2 separate regions of the Homo sapiens genome follow, and region 2 is linked to region 1. Evidence: fine-mapped expression QTL. A gene starts in region 1. The other region holds a variant in brackets. All regions are shown on one strand. Distances are between the middles of the regions.

Region 1 (4,401 bases):
ATTGCACCATTGCACTCCAGCCTGGGCATTGCAGCAAGACTCCATCTACAAAAAAAAAGATTATGATTAAAATCATTACGAGGAACATTCTTGATATGCATCTTTTTGTACTGATTTAATTATTTGATTAAGATGTTCCTAGAAGCTGAGTTGCTGGAATAAAGGACATGCAATCTTCAATTTTGGTACAGAATGTCTACTAGAAATGTCATAGGAATTATACTCCCACCCAACCTGTCTGGGAACAAATATTTTTTCCAAATTCATGCCAATACTTTATTATTCCGTTTAATCTTTGCCAAATTAGTCTGCCAAAAAAGTACGTAATCAAAAACTTTTTGCATTTCTTTGCTCTAGAGTATTATTGGCCATTACCTCATATGTATAGTTATGGCTCTTTTACAATTCTTCTATATTAATTGTCTTATTCATGTTCTTTTTTCATTTTTTAAACAAATTTGAATCCTCATCTTTACTGATTTCTAAGAGCTGTTAATAAATTGAGTCTATTTCCAATCCTTCTCATATATATGAAACCACTTTATTTTCTCCATTTATTTCTTTTTAAATCTATTTTTTTCTGAAGCAAGATTTTTTCAATTTTTCATAGCCAAATTGATCAATACTTTTCTCTACAGTGTCACTTTTACATGGCAATGAAAATAAGATAGAAAAATGTTCCCAATTACAAAAGTAGCAAAACATTTGAGACTATCTAAACTTGAATGAATAGAAATATATTCAATTTTCTTGATGACTAGGAAACTTTGCTTTAATAAATTTCAGTAAAAGAGCTTCCCTAGCAAGTAATGCAAAAATCACTTAGTCTGTGAGTTTGCTTTTAACATTTCAAATTATATGTCAATGTGAAATATATTGATTATAATGTGTGAGATGGGAATCTTAGTTTTTTACTCCAAATGGTTAGTGAGTTGTCCCACATCACTTTTTCAATAATCTATTTAACAATAAGCCTTTCTCAATGATTTGAAATGGCAGCTTTTCATATTATATTCTTGGAAATCATCTTTTGTTGGTGCTTAGCTAGCTATTGCTGTGTAACAAACCACCCAAAACTTAGAGGCTTAAAATAATAAAATTCATTATTTCTTGTAGTCTGTATGTTTACTGGCATCAGCTATATGATTTCATCTGGAGCTGAAGTCATCCAGGAACTTCACTGGCCTAGAATGTTCACTCATATGTCTGATGTCTCTAGGCAAGGATGACTGGAAGGCTGGGATAGCTGCATTGCTAGGAAAGATGGGCCTCTCTTTTTCCATGTGGTCTCAGGGCCTCTCACTTCCTACTTCTCCTGGTTTCTCCACTTGGTCTAACAGGTTAACTGCATGTCTTACACAGCGTCTAAGGACTCTTCAAAGGGCAAAGCTGAAGCTGCCAGGACTTTGTATGGCTTATTTCTGGAACTGGCACAGTGTGACTTCTGACGCATTCTTTTGGTTAAAGAGAGTCACAGAGTCAGTCAAAGTCAACGTGGGAGGGAAATATACAAGCCTGGAATACTGGGAAGTTTAGTTCATTGGGGGCCATCTTTGAAGACTAGCTACCACCAGTCGCTAATTGTTCTTTTCTGGAATTGAATAATAATACATTATAACTTTGTCAGAAACTTTCATGCCTTCCAATGAGTAAAGTTTTATAAAGTTCTATTTATTCAATATGTATACAATTCATATACAGTCATGCATAATATAAGAATGTTCCAGTCAACGATGTACTGCATATACAACTGTGGTCTCATAAGATTACAATACTGTACGTTTACTGCACCTTCCCTATGTTTAGATATGTTTACATACACAAATACCATTGTGTTACCATTGCATATGGTATTCAGGACAGTGACATGCCACACAGGCCTGTAGCCTAGGAGAAATAGGCTATACCATACAGCCTAGGTGTGTAGTAGACTATATTGTCTAGATTTGTGTAAGAACCCTCCATGATGTTCACACAAAGACGAGATTGCCTAAAGACACATTTCTCAGAGTGTATCCCCATCGTTAAACCATGCATGATTGTATGTATTTTCCTTGTGGATGTAAAACTATTTTCTATATTACTCACAATGTATATGAGATAATTCGTGGTATTAAAGTATATTAACTATATTGCTAATTTAAAAAATAACAAATTACTAGACCTATATGAGTTCCTCTTTGTAAAGCTGTCAGAAGAATGTGCACCTAATGTTAAACTCGGATATCTCTGGGAATTGGGGTTACGGCTAATAGTTCATTTTCTTCAGAGATATTCTGATTTATTTTCAACCTTCACGTATTGAAAGCCAGCAATGATTTTGTATCCTGTTTGGGAGAAATTTTCTGCAGGTCGTTAGTATTATATTCTGCTGGAATATCTTTAGCAGTCATTTTCATTTCGCAGAATTTTCCTTTCTCATCTATAGACTTCGGTGAAACGGATATGAAACTTTACTTTTCGTATTGATGATTCACAGCAGTCACCTAAACTCTGTAGTTAAAGCAGAAGCTCCTCAAAGATCCCTCAGGGTAGGGCGGTGGCCGCGACGCCTTCTGGGGACTGTGGTCCGGAAAGCCGGCGGGGGGCCCGGGAGAGCCCCGGGAAAGGCGGCCCGGGGGCCTTTCTGCGCATGTGCTGTTCCTGTTTTTTACCTGGACGCCCTTCCGGTTCGCCAGGCTCTTCCGGGTGAGGGTCCTGCAGCCCGTGAATCCCTGGTCCCGCCGAGACTTGGACCTGGTGCGAACTGGAGGCGAAGCGGGTGCACCCACAACCTATAGGAAGGGCTGGCGGCGAGCTCTGAGCACTCGGGCGTCGGAGGGAACGGTGGGGCCGGGCGGAGCGGGCCTCGGGTCTGCGGAGGGTGGACGCGCGCTCTCCCTGTCTTTGGAGGGAGGGTTTCCTGTGGTCGGGAGGCGAGGCAGCCAGGGCAGGATTGGGCTCCTGACCTGCAGGCCACGGGCGAGCTCTCTCTAGGGCCCTGATTTGCCCGAAGAAGGCGCTTGGTGAAGGTGAAAGGTTTACGCATCCAAGTAGCTAGAACCTCTTTCCAGAACTTCTGCTGATGCACTTAGTCTTGCAGCCATTGATTATTATAGCTCAGCAAAGTTCAGTTCAACTTTCGGAAGAAGGATGTGAGCTGGAATGGGCAGGGTCAAGATTTGACAGGAAAAGACACTTCACTGGAGGTATCTGCGAGAGTCCTGGGTTGGAGGGAAGGAGTACTGGTTATAAATAAGGAAATGATGTCTTCATCACTTCCTAAACACATACATGTCATTCCCTACCATCTCCACCCTCTGTTTATTCAGAGCTGCACCAACCATGTTCATCACCTCACCTGGGATTTACTGAGTTTACCCCTTACAGAGCTACACGATAGGGGTAAAGGAAAGACTAAAAACCAATTTATCTTATATTAAAATTACGACTTAGTAAATATTTTTTTCAGTAATGCAGTTTGCTAGTGACAGATCCAATAACTGAATTCTGGTCCTTTGAGTACCAGGTCAGGGCTTTTGTCATCTACCACATTTACGTTACCTACCACAAGAAGTTTCTTAGTAAAAGGTCCTCTTGTGAAACTGCAGCTAAGGGAAACCAAACTGTCAAAAAGACAAACACCTTAAAGCACTTTCATTCATTCTCTCTGGATTCTGTCATCTCAAGTGGCTAAACACATTAGTAGGAAAACAGGTAAGTGACATAATATCATTTTCCTATTCCAAGAAATCTTTTAATCCTAGAGTCCATTTTAATGCCAAAATAGTGTTCCAGGCTTTGTATATACTAACTTTCGTTGACCTAGTCTCCTATTAATTGGACTCAGACGTTTTCAATTTTTTTCAAAGGAGGCATAGATTGACAGTAATTCAGTAGAAAACATTTGTTGACACTCACTCAGTAAGAAAAGCTCTATGAGACCATTCTAGAACTATAAATGGACAAGTGAACGTTTCCTCAACATGTTGCTTCCTGAACCAGACTGGTCAAAGGGCCATGTTTTTAAATGGGTGTGTGGCTTTGTAGGTAATTGTAGAGCTGCTGTGTGAGCCAAATCGCTCATGATTCCATTCGCCATTCTTCCTTACCCAGCTCTGCTTTCAACACTCTTGGCCCTTTCTCAAGAGAACATGAAAATGAAAAAATTTCAGGTAAGTTGCTCAGGGATTTACTTCTCACATTATACAGTGAATTTCAAGAGGTTTAGAGTAGTTTGCAGATGAAACGAAATGTATAAAATTCAGCATCAGAGAAGAGTATTCGATCAATACTGGAAAAGTGGACATAGATATACAGAAATCATATATTCCTATAGAGTTACTCAAATGGTTCCAGAAAGGCCCAGACAATATGAGATAGCCCTTACACTGGATTTTTGTGTGGTTTTCCCATCATTTA
Region 2 (4,401 bases), 76 kb before region 1:
AGAAGAGGGGAGTGCACGATTTCCCATTTTATGGGGCCCTGATACAGAAGATAATTTGGGGTGGCATGAGGACAAAATACTAAATAACACCAAATCATATTATGGGAAATATGTCTTTATCAACTCTCATCACTCAGTCTACTTACGTTGAGGAGAAAGTCTCAGTTGGGTGCTAAAGAAACCTTAATATCTAACATTTCCAAATCAACCTCTAAACGAAGAAAGAGCAAGCTTCAGACCCAGAGACTTGAGCCAGAAATGATAACTAGCCAAAATATAATACTGGCACTTTGTTTTCCTATATTTATTTTGCTTACTTCAATTACTTTTTAATATGGCTACCTTAATTTGGATAGGCAATACATACATATGCTTCTCAAAAATCAAAACAGCGCTAAGAGGTATGCAGTGAGAACCCCTCTTCCCAACCATGGGCCTCTTCTGCCACGATATCCTCCCAAACAAGCATCCACTTTTATTGGTTTCTTGTGTAACCTTCCAGAGTTTTCTTAAGCAAATATGAGCAGACATAGATATCTTTTTCTAGTGACTGGCCTCCGTGACAGATTTTTGTTTGTTTGTTTATTTATTTATTTATTTATTTATTTATTTAGACAAAGTCTCATTCTGTCACCCAGGCTGGAGTGCAGTGGCACCATGTCGGAGTGCAACCTCCACCTCCCAGGTTCAGGCCATTCTCCTGCCTCAGCCTCCAGAGTAGCTGGGACTACAGGCTCTTGCCACCTTGCCCAGCTAATTTTTTGTGCCTTTTTTTTTTTTTGGTAGAGAGAGGGGTTTACTCTGTTGGCCAGGCTGGTCTCAAACCTCAAGTGATCCACCCACCTCGGCCCCCCAAACAGCTGGGATTACAGGCATGAGCCACCCAAGCCCAGCTGTTTTTTAATTTTTATTTTATTATTTTTTTCTCTTTTACCTTGCAGCTGTAGCTCAAAGGAAGCAAGCATTTTTATAAGATACATTTCCAGAAGTGGGATTTCTGGATCAGAGAATAAACACATTTTTATTTTAATAGATATTATCAAATCATTCTTCATAAAAATCGTACATGTTTCCTCTCCCATGAACAATGTATGAGAGTGTCTGCTTCCTTGCAGCAAAGTGGATTTTTGCCAATCTGATAAGAGAAAAATAACTTGTGTTTATTTTATGAACAGTAATTTTGGGCAACTTTTCATAGGTTTGGAAGCATATGAAAAGTTTGTTCATAGGTATTTTCTTTCCTGTGAATTGTGAAACTGTGTGTTCATATTTTTATACATTTTTTTCAAATGGGTTTTTGGTCTTGTTCTTACTAGTTTCTGGTATGCTTTATATTTTAGAAAGATGAGTGCTTATTCTACAATAGAAGCTACATTTTTTTTCCTGATTTGTCTTTTGGCTTTGCTTATGGTGCTTTTCTCCCTGCAGAATTGTTTTAATTTTTTTTTCAATCTTTTCTCATATGGTTTCTGAAATTTCAGTTACAGTTTAGAAAGGTTTTCCTAATACAGGACTTATAAAAGAATAATCATATGTTTTCTTCTAGTATTATTATTTTTTTTTACATTTAAACCTCTAATCTATTTGGAGTTCATCCTTATGGTACAGTGTGAAGTTTGGATTCAACTTCACTTTTTTTTGTCCCAAATGGTCACCCAGTGTCCTAACACCATTTATGGACACACAACATTTTACTATTTTGATGAAGTCAAATTTATCTATCTTTGATGGCTTGTGTTTTTGACGTAATATTGAAGAAACTGTTGCCTATTCCAAGGGCATGAAAATTTACCACTGCCCTTTCTTCTGAGAGGTTTATGGTTTTAACTCTAACCATATTATTCCAAGGCACATGAAAATTTACCCCTGCCTTTTCTTCTGAGAGTGTTATGGCTTTAGCTCTAACATTTAGGTCTTCAATCCATTTTGGGTTTAATTTTGTATTTGGTGTGAGGTAGGGGTCCAGATTCATTCTTTTCCACA[T/A]GGCTGTCCAGTTTTCCTAGCACCATTTGTTGAAAGGCTATTCCTTCCCCCACTATTCAGTCTTGGTACGCCTGTCAAAAATCAACTGGCCATAGATGGATGGGTTTATTTCTGGGCTCTCAACTCTGTTCCATTGATCTATATGTCTGATACCATTTACTGAATAGCCCATCTTTTCCACACCAATCTGAGATAGCAATTTTATTATAGACTAAATTCCCATTTGTGATTGAGTCTGTGTCTAGACTTTCTGTTTTGTTCCATTGATTCCTGTGTTTATTCATGTGCCTGTTTGACCCACTCATGGATTTTAAGCCTGGAAGTCATATCATCAGATTCACATTTTCAAAGATCAACCAGGCTATACGTGGGGAGAACAACTGTAGCAAAGGAAGACAGTTGCAGGGAGACAAGCTATCAGGCAGTTGCAGCCTCCCGGACAGAGAGGATGTGGCTTGGTCAGGTGGTGGTGCTTGTTGTAGGTGAGAAGTTAGTTATACCTGCAGTGGCCACTCCTAATCTCCCACTTTCTGTTTCAGGGGCTGGAGGAAGAATAAATCTGAGATAAGAACCAATGCAGAAGATAGGGCTCGAGCTGTAATTCGGGAAGAATACCAGAACCTGGGGCCCATCAAGTATGTGGGGGCCCTTGGGTTAAGGAAAGAGCTGAGTATTAAACGCTCAGGAGAGCTTCCTCCTGGCCTGGCCTTGGGCCCATGGGGGCTGAGCTCCAGGGGAATTCCAGGACCCGTGGCGTGGGAGCCTAGAGATGGAGGATGGGAGGTGGTTTACACAGTCAACCTCTTGCCGTGGTGCTGGGGTAGAAACCTGAGGACCAAAAAGCCCCTCAGAGTGTACTTACAGTGGGATCTGCTACCTTCCACCCAAGGCACCGTTTCCCTCCCGGTACGCAGAATACCTGACACTATCTCAGGTGACTTCCGGGACCTTGTTTAATGCACATTTCCATATGGTGAAAATAACGGGTTCAGTAGGCCTGTGTTCAAGGACCAGCTGTGCCACTCATGTCCTGTGTGGCTTTGGTCATGGCACTAACCCTCTCTGGGCCCTGCTCTCCAGTCTGTGAAATGGGTACATTGGGTAACTGTCTCCTCCAACTCTTGGGGATCCTCTCTTTCCACCTTCATCCACCCTCTCTCCAGGTCTGTCCCCTCTCTGTGTCTTCTCCTTTCGGTGTAGACAGACTGTGTGTTTTTCTGTCTCTCTCTCTCTCTGTATGAATGCTCCTCTTTCTCTTTGCCTACTGCATTTCTGTCTGTTTCTCTTCCTCTCTGCTTTTCGGACTCTGTCTCTGTTTCTCACTTTCTTGATTTTCCGTAGGACCCTGGTAAACTCCTGGTGATAATGAAACACGCGATTTCGGGGAGGGGGTGGCTTGAGGCTCAGGAAGGATCCTGAGGGATCGTGGAAGTCCTAGGACAGGAATCATTTACAGTCCATTGGCACCCCTCCCCTCACTCTGGGCACTCCCTGGGGAGTGGATGACTTCAGCTTTCTCAGAGGCAGAGCCCGGGCCCAGTCACTCCCAGTGGGCAGCTGCCTGAGCCTGTGCCTGCTGCGGTCTGCCTGAAACCCGGGGTCACCATCATGCCTGCATGTCTGTGCCACAGGTTTGCCGAACAGGCTGTTTTCATCCTTTTCTGCATGTTTGCCATCCTCCTCTTCACCCGGGACCCGAAGTTCATCCCTGGCTGGGCCAGCCTCTTCAATCCTGGGTGAGACTCTGGGGACCCACAGGGAGGAGTCCAACAGGGAGGATTCTGGGCTGGGCCACCTGGAGCTGGAGAGGCGGCAGTGCAGCTGGGGAGACACGCATCCAAGTTTCCATCTTTTGTCCCATATGATTATTAATAGGTCCCTCTTTCACTCTCAAAAGAGTTTAGGTTTGGGTGATAAAATATGACTTCTCATGTGTTGGGAGCTCTGGATTTGGAGTCAGACTAAACTGGGTTAGAATTCTAGCTCTGCCACTTACGAGCTGTGTGACTGAGCAAATCGTTCATTCATTCAATCAACATTGATTGAGAACCTATTATGTGCTAAGCTGGATGCTGGATGCTGGGACACAGACAAAAGCAAGTAGTTAGACAACAAAACAACTGCATTGCAATGAGTGCTATGAAGGAAAGACTGAGAGGGTTATGCTATAAAATAATAGAGCAGGGGCATTGACTTTGGACAGTTCTGGGAAGAGCCAAAGCTTAGGAAGACTGCAGATGAAAGCAGTGGAGATGCCCTGGGAATGTCTACTGAAGCCTGAGTCAGAACAAACGTAGCATGTTTGAGAAAATGAGAAAAGCCCAGTGGGAGCGAGGCCTGGTGGGAAGGAAGGAAAGCGGGTGAGGAAAGGTAGGGGAGGGCCAGATCAGAGTGTCTTTTCGGGCATGTTATGCATTT

Evidence for each region. PIP is the estimated chance that this variant, and not a neighbour inherited with it, causes the effect.
Region 2: its variant is the best candidate, but not a certain one, in a credible set for the expression of ZNF334 in ileum (GTEx, PIP 0.89).

What each region holds. Positions count from the first base shown.
Region 1 is chr20:46,511,835-46,516,235 of GRCh38, reverse strand. It overlaps ZNF334 (zinc finger protein 334), which reads left to right and starts at 2,677. Exons shown (of 5, transcript NM_001353824.2): 1 at 2,677-3,696; 2 at 4,096-4,154. The coding sequence starts at 4,134. RefSeq lists a silencer at 2,403-2,637.
Region 2 is chr20:46,587,377-46,591,777 of GRCh38, reverse strand. It overlaps SLC13A3 (solute carrier family 13 member 3), which reads left to right. Exons shown (of 13, transcript NM_022829.6): 7 at 2,523-2,618; 8 at 3,615-3,719. Among named protein-coding and RNA genes, the nearest start is that of OCSTAMP, 39 kb to the right of the region's middle. RefSeq lists an enhancer at 2,705-2,794. The variant T/A (reference allele first, on the strand shown) is at 1,984.